Linked DNA regions of Homo sapiens: regions 1 and 3 are each linked to region 2. The links come from fine-mapping of genetic effects on gene expression. A gene starts in region 2. Each other region holds a variant in brackets. All regions are shown on one strand. Distances are between the middles of the regions.

Region 1 (10,392 bases), 74 kb before region 2:
TAGCTATCTTTCACAGCAGCATACACTGAGATGCACGAAGCCCATGTGGCTACAATTGGAGGAGACATACCTGAGGCATGCATACACAGAGGAAAGCCTGTGTGAGAGCCAGGGAGAAAACACAGTAAGACCTTGTGGACAGAGAAAACGTAGTGGTTCTAAATATAAGCCCACAATCATTATCACAACGACAGATGCTTCTAATTACAGGTGTTCCATTGCCATTAAACTGCTCTCATGTGCAAACCTCCATAAAGTATCTTGTAGGCTCTGGCGTATGTGGCAGCAGGGATTTATTTATTTAACAGTGGTTAATTTTTTCAAACAATTAAGAAGGAAGCCTTTAGTCCTCAATAAAAATGACAGGGATTTAGGGATAATGGCACTTGCAAATGTAAAATTTTTCCTCTAATTTTGGGTCTTTGCTGCTTTCTCACGTACATCTGTGATGTACAGACTGTAGGCTTTACTGTTGTGTCCCAGCAGAACCTAGAACGGGACCTGGAAAACAGCAGACACTAATTATGGAGTTAAGTCGTGGGAATCACAGTAACAGAAATGGAGGTTGTAATGGGCTGATCTGTGTTCCTCCTAAACTCATATGCTGAAGCCCCAGCCCCTAGTTCCTCAAAATGTAACCTTATTTGGAGATAAATGAGGTTGTCTATTTGGCCACTTTTATCTATTTGGCCATTTTAAATAAGTTAAAATTAGGCTGTTGGGGTAGGACCCTAATCCACCATGACTGGTATCCTTAAAAGAAGAGGAGACACCGGGGATGCATACACAGAGGAAAGACTAGGTGAGGATCCAGGGAGAAAATGGCCAACTGCAAGCCAAAGAAAGAGGCCTCAAGAGAAACCAAATCTGCCAACTCTTGATCTTGGACTTCTATCTTCCGGAAACTTTGAAATTTCTGTTCTTTAATATCACTCAGTCTGTAGTATTTTGTTATGGCAACCCTAACAAACAGATGTGAATAAGTATCTGGGCTTCATTACAAAATAGTATTTACAAATTCTAAAGACTGCCAGTTGCTTTTGTAAGCTGAAATTCCTACTCGTTTTATTGGTTAGTTCCTGTGTTTGTTTGGATCTTGCATATGCCCTCATTATATTGGCATTGTGTTATATTTGCAATAATTCACAATAGTTTTAATTTTGCTATTCTAGAATGCTTCCAATTTTGTTTTCTAAATATAAAAAAAAAGTGGTGCATTTTAGGAACTATGTTTTAGTAAATTAGATATTTAGATCTGAAATTCCACATATTGACTCACAGTATTCAGCCTGGGACCCCACATATTTCCAACAGATGTGTTTAGGCTGATTATTTAAATGCTCAACACTTCAAATGTTCCAAGTATCTTATCTGTATTAAAACTGGTTTCAGTACTGTCTCAATTTTTTCTTTAGAAAATATATAAAATATAATTTAAGTGAGCACCAAGAAAATGTAGTAGAATGAGTCCTATGTTTCCTTTTTTATGTGATAGACACAGATAACCTGGGAATGAGTTCTTAAAGCTGTTTTTCTTATAACATACAATCTAAACATGCATTGATAAATAATATAAAAATAGCAACAAAATAGAGCCTGCCATGCCAACTCTTAAAATATAGCTAAAAACTGAATTTCCTTAATATTCATCTATTTTGGGAACTAGTTCATCTTTTTTTCCTCTTTGTACTTCAGGTGCACAGAATTGGATTAATAATAATCCGTGGCTTATAACATACTCTCAGCATTGGTAATTGTATGACCCACTTTTATCTATTTGGCCATTTTTAATAATGTGATAAGTACACATGAATTTTCCCAAAACAAATATTGGGGCTCTGATTGCAACCCACATTCAACTATGCAGTCACCTCATATGACATCCCTCTGAATCTTCAGATTTGAGGCAATAACCAAATTTCATCCCATACTCATTATTCCCTTTATTCCCTTGCTGTTGTACACAAAGAATAATTACATATATATGTATCTAAAGGGATATTTTAGTTTTTAACTCTATAAAATGGTATCATTAATTTTTTAGAACTTGCTATTTTTGTGCAGTATTATATTGCTAAAATTTATTCATATTTGTAAATGCTGTACTTCATTCATTTTACTACTGTGTCATATTTTAATGTGAATATACCACAGTTTATTCATCCACTCTCCTACTGATGTCTATTTAGATTGTTTCCAGGCTATTCCATTCCAAGTGGCAATGATGTTAACATCTTTACACATATTTTTGTTGTATATGTAAATGAGTTTTATTGGATATCTAGGAGTATAATTCTGAAGTCATATGATATATGAATGTTCAATTTTTCCAAATTGTTTAATGTTTTTTAAAATGATTGCACCAATTTGCCCTCCAGTCAGCGAAGAACATTCAGTGGACCTATTTCCTCTCCAATAATTGACACTATCAGGCTTTTATATTTTCTTCCAAAAGAACAGTGTAAATTTATGTTGTATTATTATGTTTCTTTGTGTTTTCATGATCACTAATGGATGTGATATCGTGTAATAAACATCTCTTCATATGTTTGTTAGTCATATGAGTTTTCTCTTCTGTGTCTATTTATAACTTTTGCTACTTTTCTTACTGATTTGTAGATAATTTTTTGTGCTCTTAACACCAATCCTTTGTCCGTTATGTAGATTGTCAACTAGTTTGTGACAGTACTTCTCACTTTAAGACATCTCTTTAATGAACTAAAGCTTTTAATTTTAATATAGCAAAATATATGTCTTTTCTTTTATAGTTAACATGTTTTATGCCTTATTTAAGAAATATCTTTCTACATCCTAGACCTAAAAACCATTCATCTGGATTATCTACTAAGTGTTTAAAGATTTGCTTTTGATACTTAAATCCTTAATCTATATGGAGTTGTTTTTTCATGTAGTGTGAGGGAAGGACCTAGTGTCATGTTTTCATAGACATTTAATGAATTATTTACTCTTCAGGCATTGATCTGTAGTTACTGGAAATTATTATTACATTATTCTTAAAAAAACACTCCCAAATTTTACTACTTACATAAAATTCTAATTAGTTATATAATGTTTTCTTAAATGAAAAAAAATTTGCATAGTAGGAGTTGAGGTTACCAATACTATCAAATACAATCAGAATGATTATAAAAAGAAGAGAAACAAGAAGATGATTTCCCCGAAGCATCCCCAATCGTCTCAACAAGGCATATTTAAAAATCTGTTTTGACTAACTGGAACACACACAAATTCACACATACATATATACACATACACCATACACAAAAGTAACCACAATATGGGAAAGGCAAGCATAATCATTGCTCCACATATCCACTTCTATTTTCATTTTTGCATTCCTACTATGACATAATTTGTTTTACCTCATTTTTGTATTAGCTCTTTTGAACGCTGCTTTAAATGAAACCGAATTAACCTGTACCTTATAGATAAGTAGGTCACAAATGAAGAAAAGGCACACCAAAAAGTAAATTAATTGCCACATATCCACTATTTCAGAGGAGCTCTTGTTTCTCTGTTTCTGCTCCATCATGGTATGACTGCATCTCTGTAAAAGCAAAAGGGTTTGGCCGGGCACGGTGGCTCACACCTATAATCCCAGCATTTTGGGAGGCCGAGACGGTTGGATCACCAGAGGTCAGGAGTTTGAGACCAGCCTGACCAACATGGAGAAACCCTATCTCTACTAGAAATACAAAATTAGCTGGGTGTGGTGGTGCAAGCCTGTAATCCCAGCTACTCAGGAGATTGAGGCAGGAGAATCACTTGAACCTGGGAGGCAGAAGTTCTGGTGCGCCATTGCACTCCAGCCTGGGGAAAAAGAGCGAAACTCCATCTCAAAAAAAAACATTAAAAAAAAAAGTAAAAGTGTTTAATTTCCAAACCATTTAACAAACATCTATTAAACATCTACTATGAGAAAGTGCTGTGCTAGATACTGTAAAGAACAAAAATTTGCTCCACAATATAATCAGGGAGCCATAAATAAATCTAAAATAGGCCCATCTATGTCGTTCCACAACTGATATACCCACAAATGTTGACTGACTTCAACTACGTCTGTAATTACTAAGCACGTAAGAGGATATGGCATTGTACATTTCAATGGTCTCATTAAATAGGCATTTGTATTTCTTTTTAAAGATTCCATTTAGTAATTTCATTATGTAGGAAATTTAAAATAGAAGCAGTCAATAGCGGTAAAATTTTTAAACAACATCCATTTCCAGACATGCTTCAGACTATAATGTAAACATTGGCATAGAAAATGTTGAATATTACTAACATATTTGATGAAGACTTTTCTCCAAAACTAGAGAAGAAGAGAAAGTAAGAAATAGTCTTTCCAAACTCTTCCTTCGTGTGGTATGTACAGTCAAACACAACTCCAGCCTACTCAGTTACTTGGCTTTAGGTTTCCAGCTGACCCAACAGCATGACCAGCTTCACATAAAGGTATGAAAATCTATAATGCCCACTCCAGGCTCTCTATTTTCCAGTCTCTCCTGTTCTATCTCTTTATGCACTCCTGCCTTTACTCCAGAGTCTCTAGTGGGGTATCCCATCTAGGCCTTCCATTTCCAATGGCTGCATTATGGTTTCTTTATTATTATTATTATTATTTATTTTATTTATTTATTTATTTTTGGAGATGGAGTTTCGCTCTTATTGCCCACGCTGGAGTGCAATGGCGTGATCTCGGCTCACTGCAGCCTCTGCCTCCTGGGTTCAAGCATTCTCCTGCCTCAGCCTCCCGAATAGGTGGGATTACAGACGCATGCCACCAGGCCCAGCTAATTTTGTATTTTTAGTAGAGACGGGGTTTCTCCATGTTGGTCAGGCTGGTCTCAAACTCCTGACCTCCGGTGATCTGGCTGCATCATGATTTCTATGAACTACCCTAGGTAAGTTCAATCTCTCCTCACCTCAAGGTTCTGCTCAGTATCACATTCCCTATGAATCCCTCTTGGGGTCTTCCATGATAACCCCTACCTAATCTCATAAACATATATACACCAATATGAGGAAGTTAGAAAGACTTTATTCCTGCCGGGGGAGTGAGTATCATCATAAGGCTTTCAAGTCAGATATTTAAAAAGTATAGTGCCACAAAAATTTGCGCTTGTAGTCAGAGACCTCAGATTAAGTCCAAAGTCCACAATGATTTGTGTGTAACATTGAGCCAGTGATTCAACTTTACTGAGACTCAGTGACTAAATCTATTAGTTATGAGAAATAACGAATTCCCATGAATGCTGTCAGAAATTACATGATGTATGAGAGAGTATTTTTAAACTATAACGTGATCTAAAGTATAAGTGATTTTCATCTTATGGCAATGATTCAACCACCAGGAAAGATATTAAATTTGGCATCTCTCAAGATATTCTGTAGTAATAACCTGTTTCAACTATGCTAAGGATAGGACAGCCAACAAATTTGTGAGAAAAAGAGATAATTATCTAAATCATGCCTCTATTCAATCACTGACCCATTCATTTGAGGGTAAAAGCAAATGTAAGGTTCAGGAGATAGGACAGTGACCAAGGTAGACATAACCCCTGTTCTCATGGAGCTTATATTCTGTCCATGGTTCAAAACAACTAGAAAATGTGGGAAAGCTGCAAGCACAAGCATGACCATTGAATTCCCAGGTGAACATCACTCTTCCTGAAATCAGTGTCACCTTTGTATTTTACTGAAACCAGAAAGAACAGAGATGGAGCTTAGCAAATTAACACAGGAACAGAAAACCAACTACCACACATTCTCACTTATAAGTGGAAGCTAAATGATGAGAACACATGAACACACAAAAGGGAACAACACACACTGGGGCCTTTGGAGGGTGAAGGGTGGAAGGAGGGAGAGGATCAGGAAAAATAACTAATCGGTACTAGGTTTAATACCTGGGTGATGAAATAACCTGCACAACAAATCCCCATGACACAAGTTTACCTATGTAAAAA[A/T]CCTGCACTTGTATCCCTGAACTTATAAGTTTTTTTAAAAGCCCATGCTATCTGATTTACCTCAATGAATCCGCCTGTGAGATCAGCATATGATCTGCTCCATCATTCTCAAAGAGCAAAAGACAAAGTAGTCTAGATGAAACCCAGGATGTTCATAACGAAAAGCCTAATGGAATATTTCTACACTTGAAAAAGTAGGATATTTCCTTCTGTTAGAGCAACACATCAGCTCTTTGAGGATAACAGCTAACACTCAGGCTCTAGGTGCTCCTTTAAGCATTGACTTTTTATCTCATTTAGCCATTACAACTCCAGGTAGTAGGTACTATCATTATCGTGTGGTTTTATAAATGAGGGGGAAATAAGGCATAAAGAGGTTAATAACTTGAGCTAGGTCACACAGTTATTTTCTGATGAACCCAAGATTCCAATGTATTACATAGTCCATATATACCCACCGTACTGCACTGCCTCTGTATAGATTCCTCTCAATGAGTGATTGATAACATACAAAGGGCTAGGAACCACTCACTGTTCCATATAACCCCAATCACCACAGAATTCATTCTAGGGCACTGGGTACATTGAGAAACACCATTCACACTGGCTTGGTGTGAACTGCACCGCATAGGGGTATGCAGCACACAAACAGCATAATCCCACACTGTGACCTGCAGCCCCATCATAAACCATACCTTCTTTTCCATGGCCTTTCTTATGTTGCTTTTCTACCATGGAGAACCCTCTTCTCTCATCTCAACATGCATAAAACCAGTCATCATCTAGCTCATATCACCCTTGAAGCTTTTCTAGGCTCTTCCAGCTACAGGTATCTACATATTTCTCCTCTGAACACCTATTTCATATTCACTTTATGGACATTTTGAACTACTGCTTAGCATTTAGATACATAACATTTTGTATTTTACCAAATACGCTTATATACTCAGCCACATTTAAGTTTATCGAGGACAGAAAACAGCTTTTATTCCCTCTCTCAACTGCATACTCTCTCTCTATGCCCACACTCCACACCTCATATAGCACTAGAAGCTCAATAAGTCTGTTTGGATAGTTGGTGGACTAATTGATTAATCTATTGAATAAACATTCACCTAAACTTAAATAATCTCCAAGAGTTGCTATCTCAGATGTAGGTGCACACACAATGTGTGGGCCTGTAAGGTAATAGACTGAAGAAGGGAATAAAAAAAAAAGCTTTCACTGGGAAATTGCCCTAAATATAAAAATCACAAGAAATGGAAATGTATAAGAATTCAATCTGAAAACTTTTAAAGGGAGAACAGGCTAACTGGAAAAGTAAGAAAAAAAAAGTGGTCAGATCTTTTCAGGATCTGAAAATCAAATGCTTCTCCTCATCATTTCTGTCATTTTTCTTCAGAAGATGTAATATATCCCCCACATTTGAAGTATATATTAAAATTCAAATGGTTAACACTTTATACTTCTTCATTCTACTTTCTCCCTCTCTCTCACACACACACACACATACATTCTGAACCCTCCCCCAACACACACACACACACACCTACCCCACATATTCTCAAATCTCCCCCACCACACACATACACACACACACACACACACACACACACACACCACCTTTTGAGGGAGAACTAGTTCTAAACCATCAAAATCGCTCCTGAGATTGGTTCATGAACTTGGGCTCCCTCTGCTGGGTCTGCAGCAGTACAACAGACAAGTCTGTAGAGTTAGGAGGTTACAGAACTTATTCATCAAATATTCTCCTGTTTAAACTCGAATTTAAGCTGACTAGCCTACAAGATGCAACAATTTGGAAACAGAAAAGATTTAGAAGTTGGATAAATTAGTAACAATAACTCAAGACAAGTGGTTTTTAAACCACTGCGAATCAGTATTTTTGCCCCTGCTTATTTCCATTTGTAGAAGAATGGTAGAATTCATCAGAGAATCGCAAAGATTGCAAAGATAATGATATAAAACTGTACAGAAAAAAAAGCTTCAAGAGATAAGCTCTGGATTACATATGTATTTGTCAGAAATAAATGCAGATGAGTATGACCAAAGGTCATATAAGGTCTCTAAGTAAGATTTCTGAGGAAGTTAAAAAAAAAAGGGAGTTAAGAAGTATTACTAAAAGAATACAAATCAAAGCTGTTGATAACATCACTGAAATATATTAGCCAACCCAAGAGTAGAGTATATTGAGCCTACAGTCACACACACCAAGAAATAAAAGAAAATGGAATCACAAAGTGCATTCCACATTTACTAAGGATAACAGAAATGTAACTTATACATCAAAAGGGAAATAGTAAATATTGATTGCTGTTAAAAGGAAATGTTATCTCTCATTGAATTGATTTGGTGTTTATTATAAAAGGAGAATGGTTAAATTGGCCTAAAACAAACCATCAGACCAGAAAAAAAGAATGAAAATAGATCTAAGACCTTTAAAAATTAGGAAATTATATATAACTGTCTGTAATATTATTTTCCTTAAGATAGGCTAGTATTCAACAATAAATACATCTTAAATCAATCCCAGCGTGATCTTGCAGAATCGTCAAATACACAGGGAATTGGATATTCCACGGCTTAGAAATTCCAGTACAGATATTGGCAGAACCTCTAGTTACTGGTGTAGCCAGCCCATATCCTTTCTCTATTGTCAAATAATGCACTGTTGTAAAGGGTCAATCAAGACTCCAGCCCATAACTCACTACATAATTTGAAATAGCCAGTGCAAAATGAAAATGCAGGGCCCCTTGTTCAAAAAAAGTACCAAGAATTTCAAAACAGTGAAAACGGAGCAGGAACCCAACCAAGTCAACTCTTCTAAGCACAGCTCTTTTAAGATGGGTGATAGTGAACTTTCATGTACATAGAAAGAGGTTGGGGAAAAAGCCAAAAAGGATTCTATGAGCACCTGAGTTGTAAAACAGACGTTCACTCCCTCTGCAGAATTGTATACCTTTTATTTTTTTAAAAAATTAATAATTACAGGAATATGATTGATAGGAATTCACCCTTCCCCTCTGGAGTCCTCACCCTTAGAAATATCCAGGGACTGACTGATTGAAAACAGAGCAGGAACCAAACCAAGCAAACTGCTCTAAGCACAGCTCTTCTAAGTATGGGGCCCTGTGTGACTACACAGATCACATGCCCATGAAGCTGGCCCGGCTCTGCCCTAGTTTAGTTGAAGGTTAGCAATAACATATCTTCATGCATCCCCAACCTCAGCATTCACAGACGAAGACACTCATCTTACCGTCGTGAAGAATTTCCTTTCAGAGAGACATCTTTACTAAAACGGTTCAGTTTAGTTTAGTTCCCAAATGCTAAACGGTTCAGTTTAGTTTCCCAAATGCTCACTGAACCTGTTAATAGGGCATATTTGTGTTCTGTCTATCCAAGTTTGGTATGAGAGACAGAGCACATGTTTAGAGAACCTAAGATAACTCCCGCAGATATTTTTTTTCTTTTGTTTCCTGTGAGGAGTCGCACAACTTAAGTTGTTAAAACACAATCTTCAGCGTCGAACTGCCTGGGTTCAAATTCCATCTCCACCACTGACCACCTGTATGACTTTGAACAAGTTACTTAAACTTTTTGTTTGAGTCTTTCTTTAAACTTTCTGAGTCTCTGTTACCACTAGCAGATAATAATAGTACTACTCATAGGGTTGTTTATTGGGATATACTGAGGCATTATTTATAAAGAGTTTAACTCAGTGCTTGGCATATAATAAGTGAATCTGATATTATCATCATATAATAAATTTTTTTCGCATATATTAGAATCCAGATCACGGAAAACCAGCTGGTTGTCTGTGGGCCACTTGGCATTTGAAAACCAGTTGTCTTAGTGTGGTTTAATGGATTATTCGCTATAAAATAATTTGAAATATAGCTCCCCATATTCTCCATATTTTAAAAGTCTTTATTAATTCATTGATTTTATAAACATACATTGATTCTCTACTCGCTGACAAGCATTATGCTGAATAGTAGGGATGAAAAGATGAAAAAGATTACCTTTCTGCCCTAAATGAGCTCACCAACCAGACACTTAAGTGGATAATTTTAATACAATGTGCCAAGTGCATCAGCTGTTGGGAGACAATTCTCCATGGGTGGCTCCCATTTCTGCACTTTCCAAGCAAAGGCATTAACATATATTTCGTTCCAGATTAGCTGTTCAGGAATGTTTTTATGTCAAACTGCCTTGGAAGGTAGAAATAGTGTCTCTTTCCAGGGCAGAAGGCAGGTTTGTTTTCTCACTAGGATAATAAAGATATTTTTTCTTTCCAGGGTAAAGTTTGAGCAGGTTTGCTGGCATCCTTTTGAAAACATGGAGGTTTCCAAAGTTTGAGATTCTTCCGTTGTGCCACAA
Region 2 (10,633 bases):
ATGCCTAATAAAGCAGTTTAGGAGTGTTAATTGACAACTCTGAATGTTGATGTTTAAAACAATCTAGTTGAGAAGACAAGAATCAGATAATTATCATTCAGTCAATAGTAACTGAAATTCATCCTGTCCTGTGTGAAGGACCCTGCTACACTACCAAGTACTTTGGGGACACTTCAGAGTAAAGGTTGCTTATGAGTTTGCTTTGTGTGTGTGTGTGTGTGTGTGTGTGTGTGTGTGTGTGTCTGTGGTTTTTAAGGTTTTTTTTCTCCACGAACCATTTTGTAAAATCCAAGAGGGGATTTCATACTCACAAAAAGATAATTTTTTCCCTCTCTCTCTCTTATTGCCATAATCAAACTCACGCAGCAAAGGTGAAGAGAGACTAGCCGCTGGAGTAACATTACTACACATTTGATTCCAAACGCTTCAGGCAATTGTTTAACACTCGGTCAGGACGTGGAATACTCAATAGGGAAGCCTCGCGTCCACCCAAAGGCTCTACGAGCGTCTATGGTTCTTCCTTTTCAGACAGGATAACTCAACCTGCAGTTCTGAGAGAAATAGGGCGACGGATCTCAAACTTTCCTTTGCAAAGCCAGTTTCTGAAAATAACACGTTCCCCCATTGATAAGTGAAGATCAGTAGCCTCAAGAAAACAATACTTGGTAGGCACCTGGCCTTTCAGAATTGAAGGGGGAAGGAATGGCAAAGCAGTTAGCAGAAAACCCGGGTACTAGTAGCAAGATCCGGGAGACATCTAACCGGAAAGAAATAAAAAACCATTAGTTTCCCGAAGCCATTCTTATTCTGAACGCTGTTCGTTAAGAGAATCATTTACTAAAGCTCTCTTGTAGTAGCCTTTACAAAAGCTTTATTTCATTCAGTAAGAAAGCGCCCCGTCCCAAATCTAAATAAACCTTACATAGATGAGGCTCCGGAAATTATCAGCTTGATTCTTTATGAAGATAGTTAGAGGTGGATAAATCAATAGACTCGCTGAAACACCCACCTTCTGCAAACAGGCCTGAGAATTAACTAATCAGAAGTGGACAAAAAGTAGGGATTTCAGAAAGATGACCTGACACATCCCATTGATCTTCCCTGGAATGCGACCCCCAACTCCTTATTAAGAGTCCAAAATGGTTACCAGCCAGGATGGGTCTGGGTGAGGAATCGAATTACAACCCACTTCAATCCTCGACCTGGTCGTTTGCTGTTATTAGGAGAAATGGGGCAGAGAGGGAGGGCACCGCTCACGGAGCCTCATTTCGCATGCTCCGATCCCCTCTCGGCGTCCCTCTACTCCGCCCCTACCCTGACCGCCCGCGAGGGAGACGCCGGCCGATGGACCCGCATCTGCCCTCACCTCTCGCCTTCCCCGGGCGATCCCTCTACAGTCCCGGACCCCCGAGAAAGGGGAAGGGAGACGTGTGCACACGGGGGCTTCCGGGACCGCGGTCCTGCAGTTGCCGCTCCGGTCCCCAGCGCTGGCCGGCGACCCGAGGCGCGGCTCGCACCTACCTGCAGCCCCGCTTCCCGGTGGCGGCAACACCTAGCGATGCTCCTGCAGCTTTTGCGGGCCGGCGCCAGCCTTATCGCTCTCGCATCGCTTCCAAGATGCCAATCCGCCGTCACCATCCAGGGGCATAGGGAACCGAAGTCTGGTGCTGTGTGATCGTGGAGGGCGGCGTGTGAGTGTGGCCCTGAGCGTGCGAGTGTGCGCGCGCGTGTGTGGATGTGTTTCCTCCTCCGATGGCAAAGACGGTTCAGGAATCTGACATCCAAGCTGGAATCCCCCTGAAGCGGGTGAAGGTGAGCCTGATCCTTCTCCCCGCTTCTTTATTCCACAGTGTCAAAGTAATCAAAAGATTTGTTTACTGAGGAAAAGCCAAAGTCCCGCAGCCCTTGGCAGCGCCCGCGGTCGCCTCCTGTCCTCGCCGGATGCGCGCGGTGCGCTCAGCTCCCTGGACTGCAAGAATCAAGGCGGTCTTGCTGCAATTACCGCTCTTATTCCATCTCTGATTTGTTTGCTTTTAAGGCCGACTAAAGACTTTTCCTCTCGCCTCACGTCGTCTCTCCCTCTCACACACACACACACTCACACATCCTCCGTTCCCTCTCTCCCGCCCTCCCTCTTGTTCTCTGGGGAAAGGCAATTGGACAGAATGATTCACCTTCAGGAAAGCAGCCTCGGCCACGCACTTCTCGAGTTCCCTGGCTCTCGCAGGTACCGGGTCTCCAACGTGGCGGAGTTGCTGGGAAGCTCGGGACAGGAAGGAGGAGAGGCTCTGAGCTCAGCCGATGTCCCCCCTCCAGACGCCCGCGTTCCTCCGTCCAGGTGCCCCTGTTCCCACTGCTCGCAGATAGGTCCCCGCTGGTGCCCTCGCGGAGACTTGGCGCCTTCCACTCGAATCCACTTAGCAGCAACTCCTGGCCAGCTTCAGCCCCTCAATCCCGCCTCGAAGTGCTGCGGGCAGAGCCCCACGCAGCCCACCCGCTGCCCTTCTAGGCATCGTGGGCTGGAAGGAAGGGAAACCCGCCGATGTCCCCCTGGTAGCAGTGCCCTGGCACCGTCACCACCGAGGAGGTGCGAGTTCCAACATCGAACACAAGCGAGCAGGTGTCGCCTGTGTCACTTTGCTAAAGGCGGGAGGGGAGAAAGAAAGGAGCGGGGGGAGGGGGCCGAGGAAACAAATCCAGATCACCGGCGGAGAAAGAAGCCGTTTAGCAAGCAAAGCCTCCTCTCCGCGTCCCACCCCAGATGCTATACTGTCAAAAGACACTGATGCTAATCTTTTAGAAAGTCGCCATAAAGGGCAGAGCCCCTGCTCCACTCTAGAACCCTATTCCACCCAGCCTGGCTGTCCAGTGAGTACAGAGTGACTTGGCTCCCCCGTATAGTGCAGCGAGAATGCAGGAGAATAGGTCCTGACACTCCAGGTTGAGTTAAGCAGTAAAATGGAATGGCAGGGCCGGGCGGCGTTGCCTCGCCTCTCTCTCCCAACAGCCAGTTCTGTTAGCCCCAGCAACTGCCGTTGAGAGCAAACAACGGTCCTGCAGAAAAAGAACGAGACAGTAAAAGATGAGGAGGCAACTGGTATAAAAGCTGGACTATGTCTCCCTCTAGAGGGTCAACCGGATTAGAACGCTTTACTAGATGTAACAGACCAGTTTCTCTCCATAAAGAAAAAGAAAAAAATATCTGGTTTCAGATAATTTGCATTTTTACAAATTACAACTTCTCAAGGATTTAGACGGAGGATTTTCACTGCAGCCCTATTAAGCAAAGCCCTTGCTAAAGGAACGTCGTGATATTCATGACGCTGGAAGGTCATGTCCTTACATGTTTGGTCAAATTGGGTGTCGGTTTAAGCGCTGTGCATATGAGCTCAAATGAAGGGTCTTCTGAGGCTCACTTCGATCATGTTTGGAGATGAGCAAAACCTTAATCTAGTGATTAGAAGACTATTCAAAAATGAATAATTAGTAAGAATGAATTCAGAAAAAGAAAATCTGAAACAAAGAAAGGGAATGCTGACCCAGGAAATTTTACAAGTCCTTTACAAGGAAAGATAACTCAAGAATCTGGTTTTGGAGCCAGTTTTCATACCTCTTTTTCAACTAGACCAATAATGGTCAAGATAGCTAAATTCCTTCCAGCTCTAAAGGTCTGTGCTTTTATATAGCTGTGATTCACTGAAACCATTGACAAATTAGGTATCACAAGCTCTCTTCACCAGCTATAAAATAAAAGTAATACTACATACCATATTTACAAAGAAATATAGAATATGTGCTTCACTTAGCTATTTTATCTTAACATGCTTAGTAAATCAACCATATTTTGTATCTAAAATGCATCAAGTAATTTAATTATGTTGAGGTGGTCATTTTTATAAAAAATAGCTCCACCGATTTTATAAAGTTTTGTTACATCAGTCCAAATCAAGCTAGGTCCCATCTGTAACCTTAACATTTAGATTTTTGTGAACTTACTATTTGAGCTGGGGGTTTGCTTTCAAAATGTTTCTGTATGTTCAAAAATTGTAAAATGTGTATTAAAGTTATTATTAAACACCCTTCCATTCACTCTGAATTTCTGGAGCAGTTCTATTTTAACTTGATAATCTAAATTAGCACAGTCATAAAGAAAGAAAAGAATGTATTTTTTAAATAGCTGAGACTAGTTGAAATCATTTAAAACAAAGCACCAAAACTAAACAAGGCAAGTTTTACCGTAACTAATTGCTCTATGGCATATTTGACTTTGTCTAGTAGTATACAGCAATCATTTGTTTCCAAGGATCTCTCAGATAGTCTCTTTCAAAAGATTTATGCCATGTGATTAAATATTTCATTCCACTTACATAGTAACTTATATCCAGGAAAGCAACGTTTACATTTTAAAACACCTGGCACTGTTGCACTGCAAATCTTACAGTATTTTTTTGTCTGCTGTGTTCAATAGTGTGATGAAATTCAAGCAGGAATGACATTGGAAACTTGGACTCTGTACTAGAAAGAAGTCACTTACAAAATCACTTTAGAACATTGGCTTTCTTTTCACACACACACACACACACACACACATACAAAAAAACATAAAGCATACATTATAATCTTTCTACCTTCTAATTCATTAACTTTTTGTGGTTGTAATCTATAGTTTTGTCATCTTGTTAAAATTTTATTTGTATTGTTTAAGTGTGGGACATTTTCAGCCTTATTTTTCTAACTAAACCCACTGTGTTTTTACAATATATGAAAAAGTAAAGAGAACAGATATATAAATTAATTACAAAATAGAACAAAATTTCTTATCCAATGTCATATGATGCTGAAATTCTATCATAACCTCTGTGCTTTTTGTAAATAATTCCCAATAATTTTTAGATCAAGATATTCCTATTTCCAGCATCTCCTAGACAAAATAAAATCTTTTGCATTCTCTTCAAAGGAAACAAAGTAGTAAAGATTCTCCTAATTTAACAGAAATTTTTTGTTGATACTTCTTACCTTCTACAGGCATGCCTCAAAAATGTTGCAGGTTTGGTTCCAAACCACCACAAATATTGCAATAAAGTGAGTCACACAATTTTTTTGGTTTCTCAACACATGTGAAAGTTATGTTTACACCATACTGCAGTCCATTAGGTATGCAATAGCATTTTGTCTTAAAAATGTACATATCTTACCTTGAAAATGGTTTAATGCTTTTTTTAAAAAAAGTGTACTGATGATCTGAGCCTTCAGTGATTCCTAATCTCTTTGCTGATGGAGAGTCTTGTTTCAGTGTTGATGGCTGCTGATGGATCAGGGTAGTGGTTGCTGAAGGTTGGAATTGCTGTGGCGATTTCTTAAAATAAGACAATAATGAGGTTTGCTGTGTCAATTGACTCTTCCTTTCACAAAAGATTTCTCTGTAACATGCAATGCTGCTTGATAGCATTTTATCCACAGTAGAACTTCTTTCAAAATTGGAGTTAGTCCTCTCAACTCTGCCACTGCTTTATCAGTCAGGTTTATAAAATATTCAAAATCCTTTGTTGTCATTTCAACAATATTCACAGCATCTTCACCATGAGTAAATTCCATCTCAAAAAAAACTACTTTGCTCATCCACAGAAGCAACTCTTCTAGCATCTAGAATGGTGAATGATCTCCAGAAGCTTTTCAATTTACTTTGCCCAGATCCATCAGAGGAATCATTATCTATGACAGATGTAGCCTAGCAAAATATATTTCTTAAATAAGAAGACTTGAAAGGCAAAATTACTCCTTGACCTATGGGCTGCAGAACAGATGTTGTGTTAGCAGGCATGAAAACAACATGAACCTTCTTGTACATCTTCATCAGAGCTGTTGGATGACCAAATGTATTGTCAATAAGCAGTAGTATTTTGAAAGGAATCTTTTTGTGAAGCCAGTAGCTCTCAACAGTAGGCTTAAAATATTTAATAAAATATGCTGTAAACAAATGTGCTGCTATCAGGCTTTCTTTTTCCATTTATAAAACACAAGCAGAGTAGATTTATTATAATTCTTAAGGGCCATACGATTTTCAGAATAGCAAATGAGCATTGGCTCCAACTTAAAGTCACCAGCTGCATTATCCTCTAACAAGAGAGTCATCCTGTCCTTTGAAGCTTCGAAGCCAGGCACTGACTTCTCTCTAGCTGGGAAAGTCCCAGATGTCATCCTCTTCCAATATAAGGATGTTTATTTACATTGAAAATCTGTTGTTTAGTGTATCCACCTTCATCAATGATCTTAGCTAGATCTTCTGGATAACTTGCTGCAGCTTCTACCTAAGCACTTACTGCCTCACCTTTTACTCATGTATTATGGAGACAGCTTCTTTCTTTAAATCTCATGAACCAACCTCTGCTAGTTTCAAATTTTTCTTCTGAAGATTTTTTACCTTTCTTTCAGCCTTTATAGAATTGAAGAGAGTTAAGGCTTTGCTCTGGATTAGACCCTGGCTAAAAGGAATGTTGTGGCTGGTTTGATTTTCTATCTAGACCACCAAAGCTTTCTCTATGTCAGCAATAAGACTGTTTTGCTTCCTTATCATTGTGTGTTCACTGGAGCAGCACTTTTCATTTCCTTCTTGAACTTTTCCTTTGCATTCACAACTTGCCTAGCAGTTTGGCTCAAGAGGCCTAGTTCTCAGCTTTTGACATGCCTTCCTCCCTATTAAGCTTTTGATTTAAAGTGAGAGACATGAGACTCTTCCTTTCATTTGAACACTTACAGACCACTGTAGGGTTATATTAATGGGCCTAATTTCAATATTAGGTCAGGGAATAGGGAGACCCCAGGAGAGAGAGGGAGTTGGGGGAACAGCCAGTTGGTGAAACAGTCAGAACCACACAACATTTATTAATTAAGTTTGCCATCTTACATAGGCACAGTTCATTGCATCCTAAGACAATTATAATAGTAACATCAAAGACCAGTGATCACAGACCGCCATAACAGATACAAGAATAATACAAAAAGTCTGAAATATTGTGAGAATTACCAAAATCTAACACAGAGACATGAAGTGAGCACATGCTGCTGAAAAAATGGCACTGAGGGACTTATTCAACACAGGGTTACCACAAACCTTAAATTTGTAAAAATAAAAGAAAATAATAATAATAAATAAAAACAATATTTGCAAAGTGCAGCAAAGAAGGGGTCTCCAACCCCCAGGGACTGGTACCCTCCCTGTTAGTAACCCAGCCTCACAGCAGGGGTGAGCTGTGGGCAAATGAGCATTACCGCCTGAGCTCCATCTCCTGTCAGATCAGCTGCGGCATTAGATTCTCACAGGAGCCTGAACCCTATTGTAAACTGCACATGCAAGGGATCCAGGTTGTGCGCTCCTTATGAGAATCTAATGCCTGATGATCTGAGGTGGGATGGTTTCATCCCGAAATTATCCCCCACCAACTGTCCATTGAAAAAAATTGTCCTCCATGAAACCGGTCCCTGGTGCTGAAAAGGTTGGGGACTGCTGCAATAAAGTAAGGCACAACAAGCTGAGGAATAGCCATATTTGTTTAAATTGCCATCCTCCTCAAGTCTAAGCAGTAAAAAATAATTTCTTTAAACACTGAACTTAACTGGATTGTAACTCTATCATAGCTTTCCATGTTCTGTTCGCTAAAAATCACTTTGGTGCACTTCAGGCTTTTTCTTTTTTGCCTTTTATAGAAAATTACTTTATTGAAGTATAATTGATATACAATCAACTGCATGTATTTAAAGTGTACAATTTGATGAGTTTTGACACATGGGTATATCTGTGAAACTACCACCAGTCAAAATACCAAATGTTTCCATTCCCCCAAAAGTTACCTCATGCCCATTTATAATCCATATCTTCTTCCAGTCCTGTCTCTAGCATCCACTGATCTAGTTTCTGTCACTATAGTTTGCATTTTCCACAGTTTATATAAATTGAATAGTATTTTATGTGTTCTTTTTTTGTCAGGCTTCTTCCCATTGGAATAATTATTTTCAGATCATCTGTGTTGTTGTACATAGCAATAGGTCATTCTTTTTTACTTCCAAGTAGTATTTCACATTGTAGATATACCACAATTTCTTTAACCATTCACCTCTTAATGAACATTTGGGTTACTTCTAGTTTGGGGATATTAAAAATAAAGCTGCTATGAACATTTGTGAAGAAGGCTTTGAGTGAACCTATGTTTTCATTGCTCTTGGGTTACTACCTAGAAATGAAATGGCTGGATCATATGGTAGGGTATGTTTAACTTAAAAACAAGAAGTATTTTCTAAAGTGTCTGTGCCATTTTGTATTCCCATCTGCTGTGGTGGAGAGCTTTTGGAGCACTTCTAGCTTTCTACAAAAGGCTTTGTATTATATCCAAACTCCTTACCTCAAATCCCCACAACATCTCATAAAGCAGACGATATAAACCCACTTATCACATGAAAAAAAAAATGAGACAATCTACCTGTTATTATATATTGGAGCTGAGATTCAAACCAGATCTATCTAAAGTCAGAGCCAGTCATTGATTTTTTGTTTGGCTTGGTTTTGTTCTTGTTTTTGTTTTCCCAGCCTCCTCTCTTTCTGCCTCCAACCCCTGTATCACAGGGAGATCAAACTCATTTGGATCTGGATATGGAAAAGGCTTTAGCCAGAGAACCTGGGTTCATTAGTAAGAATAAAGAGAAGAGATTAGTAAGAGAGATAGAATAAGGAGAAAAATTAGCTCTGGCTCCCCGCAGTGTTCTGCAAGATACGGTATTATAACAATTAAATTAAAACTTACGAGTCCCAGTTCATAGTTCTTAGCTTGTAGGATTGCTACCTACAAGCCATTCATCCCCACTTGTCTCCTCTTATTTTATTTGATGTTAACCAAGTTATTTCTAACTTATGCAATAATGTGTCTCTCACTTATCTTTTAAATGTTTTTTAAAAACATTTACAGAATATTTTCATGTAATCAAGTGAATGGAAGGAAGCACAGAATTCATTCCACACAACCCAAGGTTACATGCATGTTATTAACTTATGCTATCCCCATCCCCTAGCATGGTACCTTACACACAATAAATACTCTATAAATACTTTGTGGTCAAAACTCAGGAAACCAAACAGGCCAACTGAATAGACACATGCCATGGAGATAAGTCAAGAAGACCATTTCACAAAGTGATGTGAGAAACAACTGAGGCAGGAAAACTGTCCTACATGTAGTAGGCAAATATAACAAACCACCCCAAAACTTAGTTACTTAAAGAAGAAACATTTATTTAGTTCACATTTCTGTGGATTGGCAATTTGTTTTTGGCTCATTCTTCCCGACTCGGTTGGGCTTACTCATGTGTCTGAAATCAACTGGCAGTGCATTGCCTCCGTCATTATCTGACAATTGGCTGATTGTAAGCTGGAGTACTGGGGATAAGTAGGCCACATGCCTTTTTATTTTATTTTACTTCATTTTGTTTTAAGTGCCTGGATACATGTGCAAGACGTCTAGGTTTGTTACATAGGTAAACATGTACCATTGTGGTTTGCTGCACCTATCAACCCATCACCTGGGTATTATACCCCCATGCATAAGCTATTTATTCTGATACTCTCCCTCCCCACACCCTGCCAACGCCATCAGGCCCCTGTGTGTGTTGTTTCCCTCCCTGTGTTCATGTGTTCACATTGTTCAGCTCCCACTTATAAATGAGAACATGCGGTGTTTGGTGTTCTGTTCCTGTGTTAGTTTGCTGAGGATAATGGCTTTGGGCTCCATCCATTTCCCTGCAAAGGACATGATCTCATTCCTTTTTACAGCTACATAGCATTCCATGGTGTGTGTGTGTGTATGTGTGTGTATATATATATATATGTATGTGTATATATATATAAAACATTGTCTTTATCGAGTCTATCACTAGTGGGAATTTGTGTGGATTCTATATCTTTGCTATTGTAAATAGTATTGCAATGAACATATACATGCATGTATCTTTATAATAGAATGATTGATGTTCCTTTGGGTATATACCCAGTAATGGCATTGCTGGGTCAAATGGTATTTCTGGTCCTAGGTCTCTGAGGAATCACCACATTGTCTTCCACAATGGTTGAACTAATTTACATTCCCACCAACAGTGTAAAAGTGTTTCTGTTTGTCCACAACCTCAACAGCATCTGTTGTTTCTTGCTTTTTAATAAACACTATTCTGATTGGTGTGAGATGATATCTCATTGTGGTGTTAATTTGCATTTCTCTAATGATCAGTGATGTTGAGTTTTTTTCACATGCTTGTTAGTTGCATATATGTCTTCTCTTGAGAAGTGTCTCTGTTCAAGTCCTTTGCCCACTTTTTAATAGGGTTGTTTGTTTTCTTCTTGTAAATTTGTTTAAGTTCCTTGTAGATTCTGGATATTAGACTTTGTCAGATGGATAGACTGCAAAATTTTCTCTCATTCTGTAGAATGTTTGCTCACTCTGATGATAGTTTCTTTTGCTGTGTAGAAGCTCTTTGGTTTAATTAGATCCCATTTGTCAATTTTTCCTTTTGTTGCAATTGCTGTTTATGTTTTCATCATGAAATTTTTGCCCGTGCCTATGTACTAAATGGTATTGCCTAGATTTTCTTCTAG
Region 3 (10,616 bases), 22 kb after region 2:
ACAATTATAGTAACTATTCTACTTTACATTTCAAAGTAAATACATCCCAAAAGTCAATACTCTGTCAGTAGTAACTTTATTATTAGTGACCCACTTCACAACAAATTATCAACTAGTATGAAACCTGTAGTCAAGCAATAAATATTGTTAAAGGTAATAATTTAATTATCCTTTGTGATTCAAGATATACAGCAAATCAGGGAAAAGCAGGTAGAAAGAAATTTGGTGTATAGTCACCATTAGCTAACAGAATTGGAGAGGAAGTTTCAAATAGTACTCAGCTTTCCTTTATTTCCAAAAGTTTGTATTCAAAATATCCCAGACCCAAAACCTTCCTGTCATTTTAATGATATTCAGCAATGGAAATTCAACAACCTCTCCAAGAATCCACCTATAAAGAGGTGTTTCATTGAGCCCTGTATTTCACACATAAGCCTACTTCTTCAGGTTTTGCCCTTTAAGGGGTTTGGATAAGCACATTTTCATCTCTTTATGATCATGATTCATATTCCCCAGGGATACCCTCTAGGAATAACTCCTTTCTGCCCCCATTAGACACTTTTCGAGCTTGCAAACTATTATAGCTGAGCCTACCAAAGTCGTCTGACATCCATGAAGGAAAAGTCCCTCTTCTCCTCTGTCTGCTGAATAACGATTCTCTAAATATGTGTCCTCTTTTCTTGGTAGATAGAATTGCTTTCCTTTGAAACCCTGTTACAATAGTTGAGATTCTCATATGCTCTGCCGAAAAAAGGTACTAATAAAAGCGAAACATTTGAAAAATCCTCTTTTTTATTCATTTGGCATTCTAAATTATCAAAGGTGTAAGCCATTTCTCAAGAGAAATAAATAAATTATAACTGTACTGATACAACAGATTTCTTAATGATTGCATTAATGAGAGCAAAAAATACACCTAACCACATGAATCCAAAAGATATAAATGTTAAGGTAAAAATTATTAACAGAAGATTAAAACTTTTAATATTAGAGTGCTTAAAGATGCCTGAAAATAAGCCTAAATATATTATTGCTATCTGAAGTCTTTGCTTCATATGCTAGTTCTAAAAAAAGTGCAATTATGAAATTATATAAAATAGAGGCCGCAAATTTTGGCCCATCTCTGAATCAATTCATACCCGGGAGCCACTATAAATGCCTGTCTTTTCTTTTGGATTTACACCAGGCAGCTGCTCATATACCCCACCACGGTTCATTCCCTTCTTACTTGGGTAAGGGTCACAGTTAGAGAAGTAGTAAGAAGGATGAATGGAATAGTGTTAAAGCCATGCTTCAGAATTCAGGTAAAAACAAAATCCCTAGGTGTACTCTGTTTATGGATAAGCTGCCTAGTTTTCAAGATGATTACCTGAACCATTTAGGTAAGTTCAATTTGTTAAATAATTATTAAAAGTATAAGTTGCAGCTGGGCGTGGTGGCTCACACCTGTAATCCCAGCATTTTGGGAGGCCGAGGTGGGCAGATCATGAGGTCAAGAGATTGAGACCATCCTGATCAACATGGTGAAACCCCGTCTGTACTAAAAATACAAAAATTAGCTGGGCATGGTGGCGCGTGCCTGTAGTCCCAGCTGCTCAGGAGGCTAAGGCAGGAGAATCACTTGAACCCATGAAGCAGAGGTTGCAGTGAGCCGAGATCGTGCCACTGCACTCCAGTCTGGTGACAGACTGAGACTCTGTCTCAAAAAAAAAAAAAAGTGTAAGTTGCCATTAGGTACTCCTGTGTGTGGTGCTGTGCCTTGTTAATACACATGGTCTTGTCTTTCAGAATTTACAATCCAAGTTAAATAATAAATACTTATCATCCACTGAAATTCATTAAACTCAATTATTCTTCTTTACTCCAAGAGTAGGTAGCCTCAACTTGTGAATAAGATACCTTTCAAGATTTTTATATATTGTTTTGAACTCAGAATGTCCCCATCCTATAGAAACTCATTAAGATGGAAACTAGGTTCCTAGACCTGTGTACAAACAAACAAAAAACTATTAAACACAGAGATATCGAATCAAGTTCCCAGTTTGCATCATTACCAGTATGTAAACACTATTTGGACTCTTAGCCTTTTGGGGAACTAAGAACCTAATGAAAGCATGTACTTCTAAAATTTCACAAACCATTAAGATGCACCAGGTTAAGAAGGGTTGATTTAGCCCCTTGTTTATTTAGGAATTTAACTGCCAATGTGAGAAATAATCCCCCTTATAAGAGGCTGACTTATGGCCCCTAACCCCAATATGGTTTGGCTGTATGCCCACCCAAATCTCATCTTGAATTCCCATGTGTTGTGGGAGGTAATTGAATTACGGGGGCAGTTCTTTCCTGTGCTGTTTTCATGATAGGGAATAAGTCTCACGAGATCTGATGGTTTTCAAAATGGGAGTTCCCCTGCACAAGCTCGCTCTCTCTTTGCCTGCCACCACCCATTTAAGATGTGACTTGCTCCTCCTTCCTTCTGCCATGATTGTGAGGCCTCCCCAGCCATGTGGAACTGTAAGTCCATTAAACCATTTTTTCTTCCCAGTCTTGGGTATGTCTTTACCAGCAGCATGAAAATGAATTAATACACCCCCAAAAATTTATATGTTGAAGTCCTAACTCCTACTATCTCAGAATGTAACTGTATTTGGAGATAAGATCTTTTTTAAAGTAATTAAATTAAAATGAGGTCTTTAGGGTGGGACTTAATCGAATATGACTGGTGCCCTTGTGCCCGTGGACACAGACATGCACACACACAGCAATATCATAGAAAGATAGCCAAATAAAAAGGCCTTGGAAAAAATGAACCTGCTGACCCCTTGCTCTGAGAAATCTAGTCTCCAGAACTGTGAGAAAGTGAATTTCTGTTGTTTAAGACATCAGTCTATGGTACTTTGTTATGGCATCCCTCACAAACTAACACACACACCCATTATCCCCACCTTCTAATATAATATGCCTCAAAGCAGTGATAAGAAGGGATACCACTCTAGAGATACTATCTTTAAAGGCTCCATTTATTTTGATAACCATTTCTACTTACATCCCTGCACCAATTCTGAGACCCACTCTCCTGACTCAAAGGGGCCAGACTAGAGAGAAAAGGAAGTTGTGCAACTCTCACCTAAGAGAGAGTACTAAGAAGTGAAATCATTACTTTTGCACAAGCTATCTCTGTATATCCTCATAAGAGACCAAAACTTTCCAAGACAATCATACCTCCAGGTTTTGGAATTGAAGAACAAAAGTCAATGTCTACTTGTTCACATTTTGGGTTA[T/C]TGGTAAGTCAATTTTTCACAAATTGTTTATTAATTGAATGCAGATGTGCAGTCACCAAAAGCAGCCCTGTGTGTCTTATCTCTAAATCATTTGAGTTTTCCCTTCTCAGTAGTTGCTCCAACAGTAGGAATAACCTGAAATGGGAAAAGGCAAGGTAATAGGATACAAGAATAACAAATTTTCCAGAACATCTCATAGCCTGGGGAAGTACTGACATTTTCACCAAGCTCTTGCTATTCAACTCTGCTTTTTAGACACAAAAAATTAAATAAGTACAATCTTACTCAGGGAAAATTTACTGCAGCCACAGTCTCTGCTGGAAAAAAGAAAGAACTTGTCTTTCAAAAAAAAAAAAAAAAGGGGCGGAAGAACTTGTTTCTCTTGCTTAAGAGAAACAACTCGTTTATCAAAAAAAAAAAAAAACAAGAGGAAGAACTTGTTTTTCTTGCTTAAGAGGAAGAACTTGTTTCTCTTGCTTAAGAGAAACAACTTGTTTCTCTTGCTTAAGAGAAACAACTTGTTTCTCAAAAAAAAAAAAAAAAAGAGATATGACACTTGCAAGTTACATTTTGTGTGACCTAAACTCCCTGAATCTTGGTTTCTTATTTGTAGACAGAGAGCTCTTATATAATAGCAGCTACTCTAATGATAATGGTTGTCATGAGCATCAAATGAAATTTTATAAGAATTGCTATTTGTAAAGACCAGTGGGTTTTGCCCATCAAAAGATGGGGTTTCTAGAGACCCTGTATCACCATGGCAAGTGAATAAAGTAACAGTTTCCTCAATCCTTCCCCAAGGGGACAGTACCAAAAGCCATTTTCTCAACTAAGAAAATACCCAAATGTTTCAAGGACTTTTGGACACAGAGTCTGAGTTGACACTAAAGCATCATTACATTCCTCTGTTAGAGAACCAGCATATGGGGGTAAAGTAACAAATGGAGTCTGGCCAAGTGCTATCCAATTGCGGGTCCACACACCTATCCAGTAGTCACTACTGCCATTGCTAATTGAATAACAATAGTGGACATGCTTGGTAATTAGCAGAACCCCCATGTTGGTACCTTAGACTGTGGAATAAGACCCATATAGTAGAGAAAGGTAATTTTAAACTCTGAAACTGCTCCTTCCCAAGACAGTAAATTTTAACAAACAGCATTTCATCTGTTTGTTAGTGTGGGTATTGGGGAAGTGGTGGCAGAGATTAATGACACCTTTAAAAACCTACATAATATTTGGTTGCTGATTTTCATCCTATTCCCTTTCAACTGACCAGCAAGGACCCTACAAAAAACAGACATATCTTGGAGAATGACAGTAAAGTAAGGCAAACTCGATCAGAAAAGTAGTTCCAACTATAGATGTTGTCCCAGATGTGGCTTCTTTGCTAGAGCAGATTACCACAAATTCTTAATACACAGTATACTATTGTTGATCTGAAAAACGCTTTATTTTCCAATCTTATTGGAAAGATCAGAAATGGTTTGAATTCACTTGAAACAGATAGGTGTATATGTTTACAGTCTTACCCAAAGCTAGGTTAATTCTTTTGCCCTCTGACATAATGTATTTCAAAGATGCCCGAACTGGTCATTTGTCAAAACATAGCATTGGTTCACTATTTCAGTGGTACCATATTAATTGGACTAGACAAGCAAGAAGTTAGCATATACATTACGGTATACCATATGCATTCCAGAGTGCGGGAGCTAAACCCTATAAGGGTTCAGGGAAATGCCATGTAGGTAGTATATGGGAGTCCAGTGATCTGGTACAAGCTGCGACATCCTCTCTAAATGAAACAAATTATTGTATCTTATATGTCTCTCCGCAAAAAGGGAAGCACCATGCCTGGTATTCTGGTATTCCTCTTTGGCTAACATGTTTAACATATTACATATTGGCAAATACTGCTTTTACCCACCCTCTAGATAGCATGAAAGGCTACAAGCTTTGAGTGGGGTCCAAAGCAGCAGACAGCCCTGCAGCAGGTACAGGGAGTACTTGGGCCATATGATCCAGCAGACCTTTCAGTATGAAAAGCATCAGTAATAGGAAAAGATAATATGTGGAGTTTATGGCAAGGCCCTAAAGTAAAACCACAATGTAAATACCTAGGATTCTGGATCAAACCACTCCATCTGAAGTAAGGAGTTACACACCATTTTTTAAAATAAAAGCTCTCTGCAGTGCAACTGGGCCCTGGTAGACAGAGAGAAAAGACAAAGAGTCTAATTACAGAAGATCAAGTGATTAATGGACTAAAACTGTCTGTTATGAGGTAGGTTCTCCCAGAGCTGCCCAAGTCAGCTGAAGAAAGCCTCTTGCCCAAGATCAAGTCCCTTTCCAGAGGGAAGCTCATTTTCAGTGACTGATCCAGATGTAAAGTTATAAGGCCCAGCCCTTCCTTCAAAGTAGGCCAACTCTGAAGGGCCATACCTGTTCCAGAGCTTCCCTCGAGGTGGCTGAAGCCATTATCACAATTGCATCACAGCTCAGCTCTCCCATGAATATTCTTACTTCCTCTGCTCTCTCACAGATATCGATCCCAAGGACATTCTTCAGTAAACTTCTTTCAGACAAATTTGCATCTTAGAATCTTTTTTCCCAAGCAAACATACCTGAGATGGGTACTTACCAAAATGCTATTGAGTTGAGTAAGTGAAAATGAGCCAGGAGAAAAAAGTTTTACTTCTGAACTTTTCAAAACTAATGCTGATTGAATTTATCTATTTTTATGTATGTATTTATTTATTTATTTATTTATTTATTTATTTATTTATTTATTTTTGAGACAGGGTCTCACTCTGTTGCCCTGGCTGGACTGCAGTGATGCGATCATAGCTCACTGCAGCCTCAGCCTCCTGGGCTCAATAGATCCTCCCACTTCAGTCTCCCAAGTAGCTGGGACTACAGGCACGCACCGTCACACCGGGCTAACTTTTTAAATTTTTAGTAGAGATGAGGTCTTACTATGTTGCCCAGGCTGGTCTTGAACCCCTAAACTCAAGCAATCCTCCCCGCTCAGCCTCCCAAAGTGCTGGGATTACAGGAGTGAGCCACTGCACCTGGCCTGAATTTTAATTTGTAAAGAAAAAACAGTGGAAGAAAGGAAATGAGGGAAGGAAAGGAAAAGAGTCTCTCCTACCCGTGTCTGATGAACACATCCCCTATTACTTGAAATGCTAGTATGTGATCAGTTGGGTAGGCTCACATCCCTAGTTATCAAAGTGAGGGATAATGTTAGCCTGGAGAACTACCACAATTTGCTATTCAGCAAAGAAAAAGCTAAATATCCTAACCCAACCCGTACTGTGTTTGCCTCCTGTGAAAATTCTGAATTTCATTCACTCATTTAATAAATATTTATTTAGCACCTACAATATGTCAAGCACAGCTCTATATTTTATAATATAGTACTACTATCTTTACGATCTTTATAGCTTTAAATCTATGAATGAAATAGATGTTTCAGATATTCTTGGATATAATATTATACATAGCCATTTATTTTCTTTCTCTTTTTTTTTGTTGCTTTCTCATTGCAAGTCACAAAGTCAATAAATCAGTGATAATCAGAGTAGATATCTAAAGGACATTTAAATTGGAATAGTTTTCTATTTACCAAAGATATTCTGAAGGACATTTTTCAGGCTGTTACACATTTACATAGGAGATTCAATAATATCATACTTGCAAAGTAGCTAGACATTATGACATTTTGGATTTGAGATGATAGAATTAAAATGACAATATAAGAAAACTGTAATTTACACATAATTAGAAAAGATGAGGACAAAATAGCATTTTAATTACTGACAATGAATAACATACCAGGGAGAATATAGCAAAAGAAAATTTAGTGGGAAAACATTTTTGAAAACACACAAAACAACTTAAGTTTCTCACAGTAAGATTATATCTCTGCAAATTGATGAATAAAAATATGCTCCAGCTTTGAAAAAAAAAACTTAGGTTAACATAAAAGAATTCAAAAACAAAACTAAGAGAAATTCATCTGTGAAATTACTTAAAGTGTAGAGATGAAAAATTAGCTTCGGTTAAAACTGTAAATGAAATCATAGGTCACAATTTTATTAGTCTTTAATAGAAAACTTGAAGAAGTTGCTAACACAAGTGCTTTTGGAAATGCAAAGCATTGGCAGATACAGGAGAAGGTTAGAGAATATTTACACACAGCAACCCCAGAATTTAAATTAAATCTACAGTTAGTCTAAATCACATAAACCTGAATTTTTGTATACCAAGGATGAAGTTATTCGATAATAATCAAAAGTTAATTTTAATAGAAAATTCCAAGTCTTGTTGAATTGAACCTTTGAAATTGGGTGTTTGTTATAAAAGAAACTTATTTTCTAAAGAAAAGTTTGTTCACTTAAAGTTGTAAGCACTATTTGTCATAAGGGGTTGAATTTGCTCACCAAATTTACAATTAAATCACTGACTATATAACCTAACTGCTTTTAATATAAATCACTCACCCAGTACATGAAAACTGTGCCTCCTTCTATTAAGTTATAACTATATCTGCAAGTGTTCCTCTTTCAATAGGTTGTTAAAGTAAAGAAATGATTCTAACACATTACCTTTAAAACACAACACAAAATCTCATTCTTTTGCAGAAAATACTCAACAAGCTAAGCTGTAGATATGAACTATTTTTAAACCCAGTGATCAGCAGATCAAAGAGAATATAAGATGAAAACTGAAAATACCTAGTACATTTTGGGAAGTGGAAAAATCTAGAAGAAAGTTATGGAGCATTTTTAAACAACTAAATTATTGAAATGTTACCAAAAATAAAACAACTGCTCAGATGCAATTGTTTTATTTAATAAAGGCAAAACCTCACTAGAGGCAGAAACAAGCCACCAAATAAAAAAAACCTAATGAAGTTAGAACTAGAACAAAGTAAAAGTCAAATGAAAGAAATGGAAACAATAAACTCAAAGGAAAAATCATTTTAAAAACTAATCATTACTTTTAAAAAATTACAAAATTACACCCACTTACTAAAAAGGAAAAAACTACAAATTAATAAAATGAGAAATAAAATATAAAAAACAAGACAAAAAATTTTTAAAAATATCTAAAACAATAATGAGATACCACTACACACCTGTAAGAATGGTCAAAATCAAAACATTACAACCCCAAATCCTGGTGAGGATATAGAGCAACAGGAACTGTCACTCACTGCTGGTAGTAATGCAAAATAGTACAGCCATTTTGGGAGACAGTTTTGCAGTTTCTTACAAAATTAATTGCGGATGCATGTCATCATATATTTGTCAAAACCCACAAAATATATAACATCAAGGGTGGATCCTAATAATAACTGTGGACATTGAGTGATAATGACGCATCAATGTAAGTTCATTGACTGTAACAAATGTACCACTCTGGTGGGAGATGTTGATAGTGGGGGAAGAGTATGCGTGTGTGTACGCAGTGGCATATGGGATCTCTCTGTACTTTCCACTCAACCTTGCTATTAATCTAAAACTGCTAAAAAAAAATAGTCTATTTAGAGAGAAAGAAAAGAACAAAGGAAGGAAGAGCGAAAAGAAAGAAGGGAAGGGGGCCGGGCGCGGTGGCTCACGCCTGTAAGACCAGCACTTTGGTGAGGCCGAGGCGGGCGGATCACGAGGTCAGGAGTCGAGACCATCCTCGCTAACACGGTGAAACCCCATCTCTACTAAAAAATAGAAAAATTAGCCGGGCATGGTAGCGGGCGCCTGTAGTCCCAGCTAGGGAGGCTGAGGCAGGAGAATGGCATGAACCCGGGAGGCGGAGCTTGCAGTGAGCCAAGTTTGTGCCACTGCACTCCAGCCTGAGCGACAGAGCGAGACTCCGTCTAAAAAAAAACAAAAACAAAAACAAAAACAAAACACAAGGGAAGGGAAGGGAAAGGAAGGGAAAGGTAAGGAAGGGGAGGGGAGGGGAGAAGGAAGGAGGGAAGGAAGGAAGGGGGGAAGGAAGGAAGGAAGGAAGGAAGGAAGGAAGGAAGGAAGGAAGGAAGTTTGAAAGAAAAGAAACAAAAATATTCACCAAAATACCCATCTCCAAATAGCTAGATGTACAGATCATTTTTGTATTCTTTGATATTCATTGTTCAAAAACATTGAAAATATTAGACCAACCAACTGATTTAGTAGGCATCTAGGTTGGTAACAGATACTAAGACTTATTACTGGGCTATGATAACTAAGACTATTAGTTCAGGGAAACTAATAGTCTAAGTGCTATTAGTTCAGGGAAAAACAAATAGATCAATGACTCAGGATAGATAACTCAGAAAGATCTATTCATATATGAATACTTAATATATGACAGCAGTGGCACAAAAGATTGGTGGTTTTTAGCAAATGGGTGTGGGATAATTGGGAAAAATAAAATTGGACCCTAACCTCTCATTGATTCATGAGAATCAATTCCAGGAGGATCAGAGAAGTAAATATAAAGACAAAAATGATAAAGATTTTAGAAAATAGAATTGGAGGATATTTTTATGACCCTAGAGAAGGAAATCATTTTTAAATAAGATGCAAAAAGCTCTGACCATCAAGTTAAGATTGAAAAAATCTAGTACATTAAGGTAAAGAATTTATGTTCACCAAATAACAACATAAAAGGGTGATAAGAGAAAGCTTAAAGAGGGGAGAATATATTTTTAACACGCAACTACAAAGTGCTAGTATTCAAACTCTTAGAAATCAGTAAGTTGGAGAAAAGAAATTGCCACAGTAGAGATTTCTAAACCATGTAAAGCAAAGAGTCTAAGAAGATGGGAGTGGACCTGAAAAAAAGTAAGATTAAAACAAGCAATGTTTATTTTAGGAAGTCGGTCTGTTTCTGTGATAGAGGGGTGAAGAGAGACATTGCATTGTAAGAACCCTCACAGATGCCTACCTGTGCCTATATGCCTACAGAGAAGCAAAGGTATAATAAACACACACACACACACATCTGGAGTCATAGGGAAATTTCACCTCACTTCAACACAGCCCTGGCTCATTCTCAGTATAAGCCACCTACATGTACCTTGTCCAGGAAAAACTTACCTCCCTCAAAATGAGTAATCAAGAAAGAACCAGTGCAGGATCTAATCAAAGAAACCACCAGAGAAAATTAATAGGGAGAGCTTAATGATAGACTTTTTTAAAACTTTCTTCAAAAAATACTGCTGAAGTGTAAGTGAAAATGGTGGCCCACACATTTTACCATGAAATCAACATAAATATTCAAGGATATTATTTATTATTATTATTATTATTATTTTGAGACGGAGTCTTGCTCTGTCGCCCAGGC

Evidence for each region.
Region 1: its variant is fine-mapped to the expression of TAFA2 in breast (GTEx, PIP 0.92).
Region 3: its variant is fine-mapped to the expression of TAFA2 in whole blood (TOPMed, PIP above 0.99).

The regions. Positions count from the first base shown.
Region 1 is chr12:62,116,204-62,126,595 of GRCh38, forward strand. The region is part of intron 1 of TAFA2 (TAFA chemokine like family member 2); the gene reads right to left. Among named protein-coding and RNA genes, the nearest start is that of TAFA2, 71 kb to the right of the region's middle. The variant A/T (reference allele first, on the strand shown) is at 5,991.
Region 2 is chr12:62,189,738-62,200,370 of GRCh38, forward strand. It overlaps TAFA2 (TAFA chemokine like family member 2), which reads right to left and starts at 3,036. Exons shown (of 5, transcript NM_178539.5): 1 at 1,522-3,036. RefSeq lists an enhancer at 2,428-2,961 and a silencer at 4,331-4,625.
Region 3 is chr12:62,211,939-62,222,554 of GRCh38, forward strand. It overlaps a transcript of TAFA2 not described here. Among named protein-coding and RNA genes, the nearest start is that of TAFA2, 24 kb to the left of the region's middle. The variant T/C (reference allele first, on the strand shown) is at 3,282.